3 linked regions of the Homo sapiens genome follow. The protein of the gene in region 2 purifies or fractionates together with the protein of the main gene of each other region. This does not show direct contact. Each region holds a gene or a part of one and is shown on either strand. Other genes may lie near its edges.

What was found. Proteins that work in one complex are often made in the same cells at the same time.
Region 1: the proteins of TMPRSS11E (region 2) and RAB4A purify together in Homo sapiens (affinity purification with mass spectrometry; one large-scale study listed by BioGRID and IntAct). This does not show direct contact.
Region 3: the proteins of TMPRSS11E (region 2) and GATM purify together in Homo sapiens (affinity purification with mass spectrometry; one large-scale study listed by BioGRID and IntAct). This does not show direct contact.

What each region holds. Positions count from the first base shown.
Region 1 is NC_000001.11:229,288,111-229,291,610, reverse strand, and holds part of RAB4A (ras-related protein Rab-4A), read right to left. Parts: intron 2,883-3,500; coding exon 2,768-2,882; intron 1-2,767. UniProt on the Homo sapiens protein: The small GTPases Rab are key regulators of intracellular membrane trafficking, from the formation of transport vesicles to their fusion with membranes.
Region 2 is NC_000004.12:68,453,963-68,457,462, forward strand, and holds part of TMPRSS11E (transmembrane protease serine 11E precursor), read left to right. Parts: intron 1-3,500.
Region 3 is NC_000015.10:45,365,045-45,368,544, reverse strand, and holds part of GATM (glycine amidinotransferase, mitochondrial isoform 1 precursor), read left to right. Parts: intron 1-284; coding exon 285-475; intron 476-2,036; coding exon 2,037-2,174; intron 2,175-2,334; coding exon 2,335-2,499; intron 2,500-3,500. UniProt on the Homo sapiens protein: Transamidinase that catalyzes the transfer of the amidino group of L-arginine onto the amino moiety of acceptor metabolites such as glycine, beta-alanine, gamma-aminobutyric acid (GABA) and taurine yielding the corresponding guanidine derivatives.

The DNA of each region.
Region 1 (3,500 bases), on a different chromosome or scaffold from region 2:
AACAGAAAACTCAAAAACCCTTACACTCATGGATCTTACAGTTTCTTTCTTCTCATTTCTACAAAAGGTTTAGGAAACTGAATTTCAGAGCTGTTTCTTCCCCGCTCTGACAGAGTCGTGAGCTCTTACAGAGCCCCTCACTTGTTCCCCTGGTCCTCCTGGAAGGGCAGTGCCATCACATACTGACTGCTGTCTTAGTCTTCCCTCACTGTCCCTCTAGACCTGTGCCATTCTGAGCTGGATCTTCCTGCTGGCTTCATTTTCCTCTTTCTGGGATCATGCCCTTGTCCTGGTGAAGTATATCCTCCTAAACTTTCTAAGAAAGTACATTTCTAAGAAGTCTCTGAGAAAGATAATCTTGGCTTCCTCCTCTTTCTTGCACATCTGTTGGTATTCAGCCTTTACTTGCACACTTACAGTTTGGCTAAGTTTAGAATTTTAGGTTGAAGAATTATTTCACCCTGAGTTTTGAAGGCAATGCTTCCATTTCTTTTAGCTTCCAATGTTGCTGTGGAAGGGTGCAAAGCAATTCCATTTTTCACACTTTATATGTGGCTGCTTTTTCCCTCTTGGAACCTTTCTGGTCTTCCTTACTTCATCTGTGGTGTTCTGAAATTTCACATGGCACGCTCTGGTCTGGACTTTTTCCTTACTATGTTTGATTTTAGGTGGGCCAATTAATCTGGAATCTCATTCCTTCAGTGAAACATTTTCTTCTATTATTCTCTCTGCTCTTCTCTCTTCTGGAACTCCTAATAGTCATTGCATCTTCTGGATTAATTCTGGAGGATTCTTTATGTCATCTCTCCCATTTTTCACCATGAGTTTATTTAACATATTATTCTGATTGCTCTTTTTAAGTATGACTTTGTTTCTATTACATACTCCAATGCAATCTCTGCTCTTCTTCCTAAGGATACTGTGGTTTTAGTGTGTTTTTCTTACTCCCTCAAAGTTCCAGCTTCTTTACTTTGAGCTCTCTCTTTTGCTATAGAAACTTTCTTCAAAATTCTGCCTGATCATTAAGAGCAAGGAATGAAAAAGTCTAAAAGAAGCTCTTTATGTGTGGGTGGAGCAGGTGGGCTTGGAGGGTTTCACTTTCAGATGACTGGATAGAGACTGGGCTGTTTGACTGGGAAAGCAAAATGTCACTACCTTCAAGCCTTTCCTTTCTGACTATTCATTTTTCTGCAGAGAAGGCTCCTTTCTCCTATGTGGGACATACACACCTGGCTGCCAGCGACCAGGGAAGAGGTAGGGGAGGTGGGTTGGGGGCCAGAGGCTTTCATTTTCACTTAATTTCCCTCTTTTCAGGCCTGACCCCATGCCCTCAGGTGGGCCTTATGACCTTGAGTCTAGACTCCATTTCAACGTAAAAGACTGAACCTCTTATTTCGTGTGTAAACATGAACCTCTGTAACCTCTACCTCCTGTAGAACCTGATGCTTCCAAATCCTGACCTTTTCTGGGACTCCAGAGGAAGAAATGGCTTCCCCCATTACAGTACTTAAGGTGGAGCTCCTTCTGCTGTCAGAGCACCATCTACTTCCTATCTTTAAGATTTTTTTGGAAATCTCTCAATCATAATTGTGCACTCACTCAATCTTGGCCTTTTTGAGTTACTTCAATTTCAGTTACTTAACAGACATTTCAGTGGGGTTCTGAGAGGGAAGACATAAATGTCTAATTGAATCCACCATGTTTAATCAATGCTTCCAGAAAAATGATGGTGATTAAAGGTGGTTATGGTATTTTTGAAGCAATTATTGAACTTCAATTACTTAATTAATTTTTGAGATGGAGTTTTGCTCTTGTTGCCCAGGCTGGAGTACAATGGCGTGATCTCAGCTCACTGCAACCTCCACCTCCCGGGTTCAAGCGATTTTCCTGCCTCAGCCTCCAGAGTAGCTGGGATTACAGGCACCTGCCACCACGCCCGGCTAATTTTTTTATTTTTAGTAGAGAAGGGGTTACACCATGTTGGCCAGGCTGGTCTTGAACTCCTGACCTCAGGTGAGGAGGTCTGCCTCGGCCTCCCAAAGTGCTGGGATTACAGGCATGCGCCATTGTGCCCAGCCAAACTTCAATTATTTAATATACGACATGTACTCAACTTCAAGTGAAATGTTTACAAATGGGGTGGATTTTATTTCACTGAATTATAAAACTATGAATATCAGTTCTGACTTTGTGCATCTGTGCAAAAACCACAACTAAAATATTAATCTATTTTCTTGCTTTAGTAGTTACAGAATACTAAACATGTAACCTCATTTGCAGTGACTGAAGTCATTCTGAGCCTCAGTTATGACCCTATTGTAATTAAAGTGTGGAGAGAATATTTTGTGGAGTGTGTATCAAACATCAGAACATGCTCTAGTTAATGTAAAACAAAACAAACCCTCACAAGGTTTTAAAAAGTTCTTCTTTAAAAAAGGAACACAGAAAAACAAGCTTGTGCTTTGATTTGAATCTAGAAACATACTGTACAATACACAGTGCCACATCCTCCTGAGAATGGGTCAGCCTCCGAATTATAATGCAGTTGCGCGGAGATCCTCCTGTATTCTTTAGTAATCCATGCTGCAGAGAGCTAACCTAAATTTTAGCTGTCTTGTCAATCAAAGTTTCCAAAAATGAAGTTTCTGAGATTAGGACAAGGAAGGGGTGTGTTGGGGAGGGAGTGAGACCTTATATATTGAGAGAATATCATCAATTATTTTAAATCAAATTTTCAAATATTTTTATTAAGTTAGAGAAAAGCTACCTGAATCGTTCTTGTCCTGCTGTATCCCATATTTGTAACTTTACATATTTACCACCAACATTTATTATCTTTGAACCAAATTCCACTCCTATTGTATGATTTGAGTCATCTTTGACTAAAAAAGAAAAACAAGAACAGCATATTTAATTTTAGAACATTAACAGGCTTATAGATTTAAACAAGTGACACTAAAACCAAGAGTTACATCAATGGGGAATGGACATTACTCTAGCCATTCATTTCTCCAACATTCCATTGAGAAGATGCATTTAGTTTTAAAGATAATACACACAGCCCCTATTCTCAAAGAGACATAAAGATTTTTCTCAAAACCCCCAAACAAATGATACATTTAAAAACCTATGCCTGAAAGTAGCCCTGCCATATCCGAACCACATCCAACTGTGCACTGTTAAGATGCTCACAGATGGTGACTGCTGACATACCAGCGTACCATTCTGAAGGGCATAACGCCCAGTGACAGGTGTGGAACTCAGTAAGTAATGAGGTGGAGACAGTTTCAACTACTGTATTTGAATGGTTAAATATTTTAAAGAAATAACAGTGAGTGGAAGGAAAAGCAGAGGAAAAGGGAAAAGGAGGAAAAAAATTGAACCAAAGAAAAAACACCCTCCAAAAAACCCCAAAACAAAGCACCCTCCAAAAAACCCCAAAATAAAACACCCTCCAACAAACCCCAAAACAATACACCCTCCAATAAACCCCAAAACAA
Region 2 (3,500 bases):
GGATTCCAGCCAACAAAATAGAGACTCCATTGGAAAGAAAGTATTCATATGCTGACTCTTATGGACAAGGGGCACTATTTGATTTTTCTGGTGGCTGTGTGCCTAACCAAAGATCAAGGTTTCTGTTATTAGAAAAAAAAGAATAAATATTTGGGATAGGCGTCTAGGAGTTTCTAGTATAGCTGTATTAAGTTTGAATGGTAAGAGGTATAGCCCATTGTGATGAACATAGGCTGGTGGATATATAGTTTTGAAGTGTAGGCAAGTGAGCTGAGCTGCAGTTATAGATTTGGTAGTCATCAGTATATAGATATGAATTAAACGCATGGACATTGGTAACTAAAAGTATTTGTTCTTTTGGGTAAAATAATGCATTTCTTATAATTTTTATGGTATTAATTTGCACAGAAATCCTACTTTATTCTAATATGAACCTGAGCTTATTTCACTATGTTATTATTAAATGCCAATATATTAGAACGTAATTGTCAAGGTGAGTATATAATAAAAAATTTCATAAATTTTATGTACCATCCAAAAATTAAAACTGAATTCTTACATATATTTCAGGTCGATAACTGGGGCAGAAAATTCTTTAATCAGGAAAACTCACTTTTCATTTTGGAAGAATTATTTAAACATCGAGAGGGTCTATACATTTTTCAATTTCTCCTCATTGCTGAATTAATTCAGATAGAATTTTGTTACATGTAGAAATTTCTAGACTGTCTAAAGAATTCTTGGTGTATGGTTTAGAGTGCTTTCTAAGGAAACAGCAAGCCAGAGGACACAACAAGGTGTCAGCATGTGGCCCAACTGTCACATTCAGGCACATTTTAATCAGGGTCTAGAGATTTTAAAAAGTTGGTGTATAGTAGTTATACATATTTTGGGGGTATCTGTGATATTTTGATGCTTGTATGCAATGTGTAATGATCAAATCAAGGTAACTGGGATGTCTATGACCATCTTGTGTTGGAAATATTACAGTTCTCTTCTAGCTATTTTGAAATGCAAAACAAGATATTGTTAACTAAAATTTCCCTACTGTACTGAATGGTAGAACTTATTCCTTCTATCTATACATTTGTACCCCTTAACCAACTTCTCAATACAAGTAGTAAAGTATGATTTTCAAAGTCTGGCTTTCTCAGGTATGGTATTTAGATTGTTTCAAATAACTTGTAGTCTCTTAGTTTGACTGCAAATTATTTCAAATTATCTGACATTGTAGTCAACAGAAAAATGAGGCATTTGAAAAATTGCCTGAAGTCTGATTGTTTAACAAATGCTGAATTTTAATTAGGATATGTAACTTTTTGTGTTATGTGAGGCATGGAACATTAGCTTGGATGAAAATTGAAGACCATTTAGATCAATTTAAATTTCCGCTGATTTTTTAACATGTGAAGAAAAGGAGAGCTCTCAATATCATACAAGTTGGGGCTCAGGGGATGCTGGAACTCGTTTGATGTGGAGTATGCTCTCAGATTTCTCATCTGTTTGAACTAACACTAAGACATAGGTTACTGGTTTTACAGTTTAGATCTACTTCCATTCTATCATGCAAACTTTCTTGGAGTCATCTAGACAATGTCAAGAAGAAGATTTGGTAGGAAGACAGCTAAAATTTTAAAAAGTTTCTGAAAGTCTCAAGCTATATATTAGCAGCCACAAGAGTGTCTCTAGCTCAGGTTTCTCAATCATTTTTCTTCTGATACACTTGCAGTGATATCAGCACACTGCTTGTTAATTCTTATTTTTCTTCCACATTTTGAAGTGTGTAAAATTCCCTATGATTGGCTGCAATGGCATCGCTCGTTAACTTTGCTGTGGGATATTGTTGTGTATAAAGTTGCTCAGGTAATGCCAGTTTATTATCTTGAACTAAAAAGAGTTTGAGGAAAAGAAAGCAAATATATTAGTAGAATTCAAACTTCAGTAGCTTAGTTTAAGTCTATAAACCCATAACTAATTACTTAATAATATCTTTAATTTTTTTGCAACCCACCTATCTGTATGTAGTTGCAAATTTCTAGAGATCAGGCCAAGTGTCAACTTAAATATCAGTTTGTAGTCACCTGTGCTGTACCATATTTAGTTGGGAACTTAATAAAACCTTGATGATAATCACAGTGGAGGTCAGAGACATTCCTTACTGTTGAGTTGCCACTAATATTTATGTAGTACACCTATCTAACAAAGTCTATTGATATCATATGCAATCTTCACAACCTCCTTTTAAAGGTAAGGGAAAGATACTGTCACGTAAGTTTTATGGTTGGCTAAACAGAAATAGTTAAACTCTGGGTTTTGTAACTTCTCTATGAGAACTAGCCGTAATTATTATGGTAGGGAATGCAAACATTGTGATTCAGCCCAAGCGCCTGGCTGATGCTATCAGATACTTATAGATGTGTTTTATCTTCCAGTGGATAGGACAGAAATATGTTATTTGTAATTTTATGTGGAGTAATTTGCTTGTATTTCTTCTTTTTTTAAAAAAACAGCAATGAAAATATATAATCCATGCACGTATATATGATATTCTGTTTTATTTCTACTGTGGATATTTTTATAGTCCTGTTCTAGAAAGTGTGAGAAGGATTAATTATGTCACCAATGCTTGCTGGTTTGGGCTTTTCACAAAGTAAAACACATCTCAAATACTTTTGTTGATAGGATAAGCAGGCACAATCCTATGAGCTAAGCTACGGTCAAATACATATCATATGCCAAAACAAATATATAGACCAATGGAACAGAACAGAGGCCTCAGAAATAATGCCACACATCTGCAACCATCTGATCTTTGACAAACCTGACAAAAACAAGCAATGAGGAAAGGATTCCCTATTTAATCAATGGTGTTGAGAAAATTGGCTAGTCATATGCAGAAAACTGAAAGTGGACCTCTTCCTTACACCTTAAACAAAAATTAACTCAAGATGGATTAAACTTAAATGTAAGACCTAAAACCATAAAAACTCTAGAAGAAAACCTAGGCAATACCATTCAGGACATAGGCATGGGCAAAGACTTCATGACTAAAACACCAAAAGCAATGGCAACAGAAGCCAAAATTGACAAATGGGATCTAATTAAACTAAAGAGCCTCTGCACAACAAAAGAAACTATCATCAGAGTGAACAGGCAACCTAGAGAATGGGAGAAAATTTTTGCAATCTATTTATCTGACAAAGGGCTAATATGCAGAATCTACAAAGAACTTAAATTTACAAGAAGAAAACAACCCCATAAAAAAGTAGGCAAAGGATATGAACAGACACTTCTCAAAAGAAGACATTTATGCAGCCAACAAACATATGAAAAAAAGCTCATCATCACTGTTCATCAGAGAAATGCAAATCAAAACCACAATGAGTACCATCTCATGCCAGTTAGAATGGCGATCATTAAAAAGTCAGGAAACAACAGATGTTGGAGAGGATGTGGAGAAATAGGGACATTTTTACACTGTTGGTGGGAGTGTAAATTAG
Region 3 (3,500 bases), on a different chromosome or scaffold from region 2:
TGCCTCTTGGTTCAAGTGATTCTCCTGCCTCAGTCTCCCGAGTAGCTAGGATTACAGGCACGTGCCACCATGCCTGGCTAATTGTTTTCGTATTCTTTTAGTAGAGATGGGGCTTGACCATGTTGGCCAGGCTGCTCTTGAAGAGGATCAAGTGATCCGCCCGTCTTGGCCTCCCAAAGTGGTGGGATTACAGGCATGAGCCACTGTGCCTGGCCCTATATAGACCTTTTTTGTCTTGGAAATTAACACTACTGAAGTTGTCATGGAATTTTTTGGTCTGACAGGTTTATACAGTGCAATGCCTCGAGACATCCTGATAGTTGTGGGCAATGAGATTATCGAGGCTCCCATGGCATGGCGTTCACGCTTCTTTGAGTACCGAGCGTACAGGTCAATTATCAAAGACTACTTCCACCGTGGCGCCAAGTGGACAACAGCTCCTAAGCCCACAATGGCTGATGAGCTTTATAACCAGGTGAGTCCCTAATTATAGGCTAGCTTATTACTAACTTTTCTAAATGATCCACAAAGAGTAAGATAGAGATTCTCTGATACCTTGTATATATTATGCATTTTAGAAACCGAAAACATCATCTTATTTTTAAAAAGTGATTATTTTATGATGAATATGATAAGAGTAAATGATCCTATGATAATAATAATAATGGCTAACACTTTTTGGTGCTTACCTTGTTCTGGGTCCTGGGTTAAACCCTTTATTTACATCCTCAATCCTGTTTGTTTTTCACAACAACCCTAATCATACTGTAGTATCATTCCATTAGATGGGGAAAAACTTGCCTACAGGTGTACCACTGTTCATTAGTGGAACCAGAAAAGTCACTAGACTGAAGTTCACTTTCTTCTTCTAGAAAAAGAACCTGATCTACAGTTCAAATTCACAGTAAAATGAAATGTATGTCCCTTATTAAATCAGTTACCATTTGATCTTTTATAGAAAAAAATTTAAAAATCAAAATAGCTTCTGGGTTTAAAGACAGAAATAAATAATGAATTAGTTTTGCCACTCCCAATCAAATTTGGCAGGGGAAACATGGCATCTCGTTTTATGGTATGAGTTAAGCTCGGGACCAAATTCCTTTTCTAAAAGAACAGAATGACTTCATCCTGTTTACTTTCCGTACGGTTCATGGAATATTCTCAGAATCAGTTACTGCCTCTGTATCACTTTTTTTTTTTTTTTGAGATGGAGTCTTGCTCTGTCACCCAGACTGGAGTGCAGTGGCGTGATCTCGGCTCACTGCAGCCTCTGCCTCCCGGGTTCCAGCAATTCTCCTGCCTCAGCCTCCTGGGTAGCTGGGATTACAGGTGCATGCCACCATGCCTGACGAATTTTTGTATTTTTAGTAGAAACGGGGTTTCACCATGTTGGCCAGGCTGGTCTCGAACTCCTGACCTCAGGTGATCCACCTGCCTTGGCCTCCCAAAGTGCTGGGATTACAGGCATGAGCCATCTCACCTGGTGTGTACCATTTTTTTCTAAGTACATAGTGCCCCTTCATCCTCAGGGGATATGTTCCAGACTCTCAGTGGATGCTGATACTGAACTCTATATATTTTGTTTTTTCCTGTACATATATACATACCTATGATAAAGTTTAATTTACAAATTAGGCACAGTAAGAGCCTAACAACAATAATGAATAATAAAATGGAACAATTATATAAATATACTTTACTAAAAGTTAGGTGAATGTGGTCTCTCTGTTTCTCTCAAAATATCTTAATGTTTTGGGACGACAGTTGACTGAAGGTAACTGAAACCATGGAAAGTGAAATCATGGGTAAAGGAGGACTGTTGTATCAGGAAATTACTATAATGCTAGTTTCTTGTTTTATTGTTGTTTTGGTTTATTTATCATGGACCCGCTTCTTTCCCAGGCATGTTTTAGTCTAGAACTGAGTAGTAATATTTTGGGAAATGATGTTAAACTAATTTTCTTAGTACTGTATGCCTTATGAATAATTTTCTCATGATCCAGTGCATTGTGTGTGTTCATTCTTGTTCCAATTAGGATTATCCCATCCACTCTGTAGAAGACAGACACAAATTGGCTGCTCAGGGAAAATTTGTGACAACTGAGTTTGAGCCATGCTTTGATGCTGCTGACTTCATTCGAGCTGGAAGAGATATTTTTGCACAGAGAAGCCAGGTGAACGCAGGCTGCCTCTGAAATTTCACACTATATTATTGTATTCTTTACTTCCAAATTAAAATATTTTCATCCTAAATTTTTTTCACCTTGAATATTTTTAGTTTTCTAGACATAGAACCAAATATTTATCGATCGTATGTCTTTCTTTTGTTTTCAGGTTACAAACTACCTAGGCATTGAATGGATGCGTAGGCATCTTGCTCCAGACTACAGAGTGCATATCATCTCCTTTAAAGATCCCAATCCCATGCATATTGATGCTACCTTCAACATCATTGGACCTGGTATTGTGCTTTCCAACCCTGACCGACCATGTCACCAGGTAAGAGATTTCTTGGGACTCTGGAAAAGCAACAGAATCTAGTAACTAAAATAATTGCCACTTTTATTTTAAGCACTTCCATGGTTCCTAATGGTTCTAAATGACAGATTCAGCAGTACTCAACATTATTATGATCAAACATTGGATTCCTTATGGCTTATTACAAGATGTCCACCATGCAGAAATATACATAGTTGACACAATAATTAGTATGGGATCATCAGACTTTGGCCACTTGCTGTTGTCAGAGCCTCAAGTTTGTGCATATGTGTGTATTTTTATCAAACGATGGTGTTATAACTTGCAACAGTGGTTCCACAGCAGCGAATTTTGGACAAGATCATCCTTGCATGGCCAGGGCAATGCCACTGGGCAGTGGTTGTATTCCCTCTACAGTGGGGTAGCCTCCCTTTGGCCAACCCTGCTCTGTAGGGAAAAGTGAAGCCACTGCACTGCAGCTGGTCTATCCCCTTCACCTGCAGCCTCCTACTTTCTGTCCATAGCCTCCTACTTCCAGTTAGGTGATGAGTGATTTTCTGTTACTTGCAAGGCTGCAGTACAACTTTTAAAAACCACTGTTATACTGTGTCACTGTTCATTTCTGTTTTTTATTTTTAAACCCGATGACCATGACTACTTATTCATTTCATTTTATTATCATTTATTCGTATAGTAAGTGGGTATGTGAACACAGGGACGGCTAAGTTGTAAAAGGTCACTAAGGACAATATGGTTCTTTGAGAATGCATAGCTAACAACTGTCTTTATACCATGGTCCTAGATACAAAATGATGGGCAAGAAGTAGAAGGACTGTGGGTTTGATGTAGTCACATTTTTGTTTTCTTGTAACTAAATAGGAAATTTTTCAATTTTTAAAATGAGAATTTCTTAAGGACAGTATCTTTGGTTTTTTAAGTCTCTGAAACCTGAGAAAAGTTAAGACTATCTTTAAAAGCTGTAACATTTCTGTTACTTTTTAACTTTAATCTGGGGATTTTAT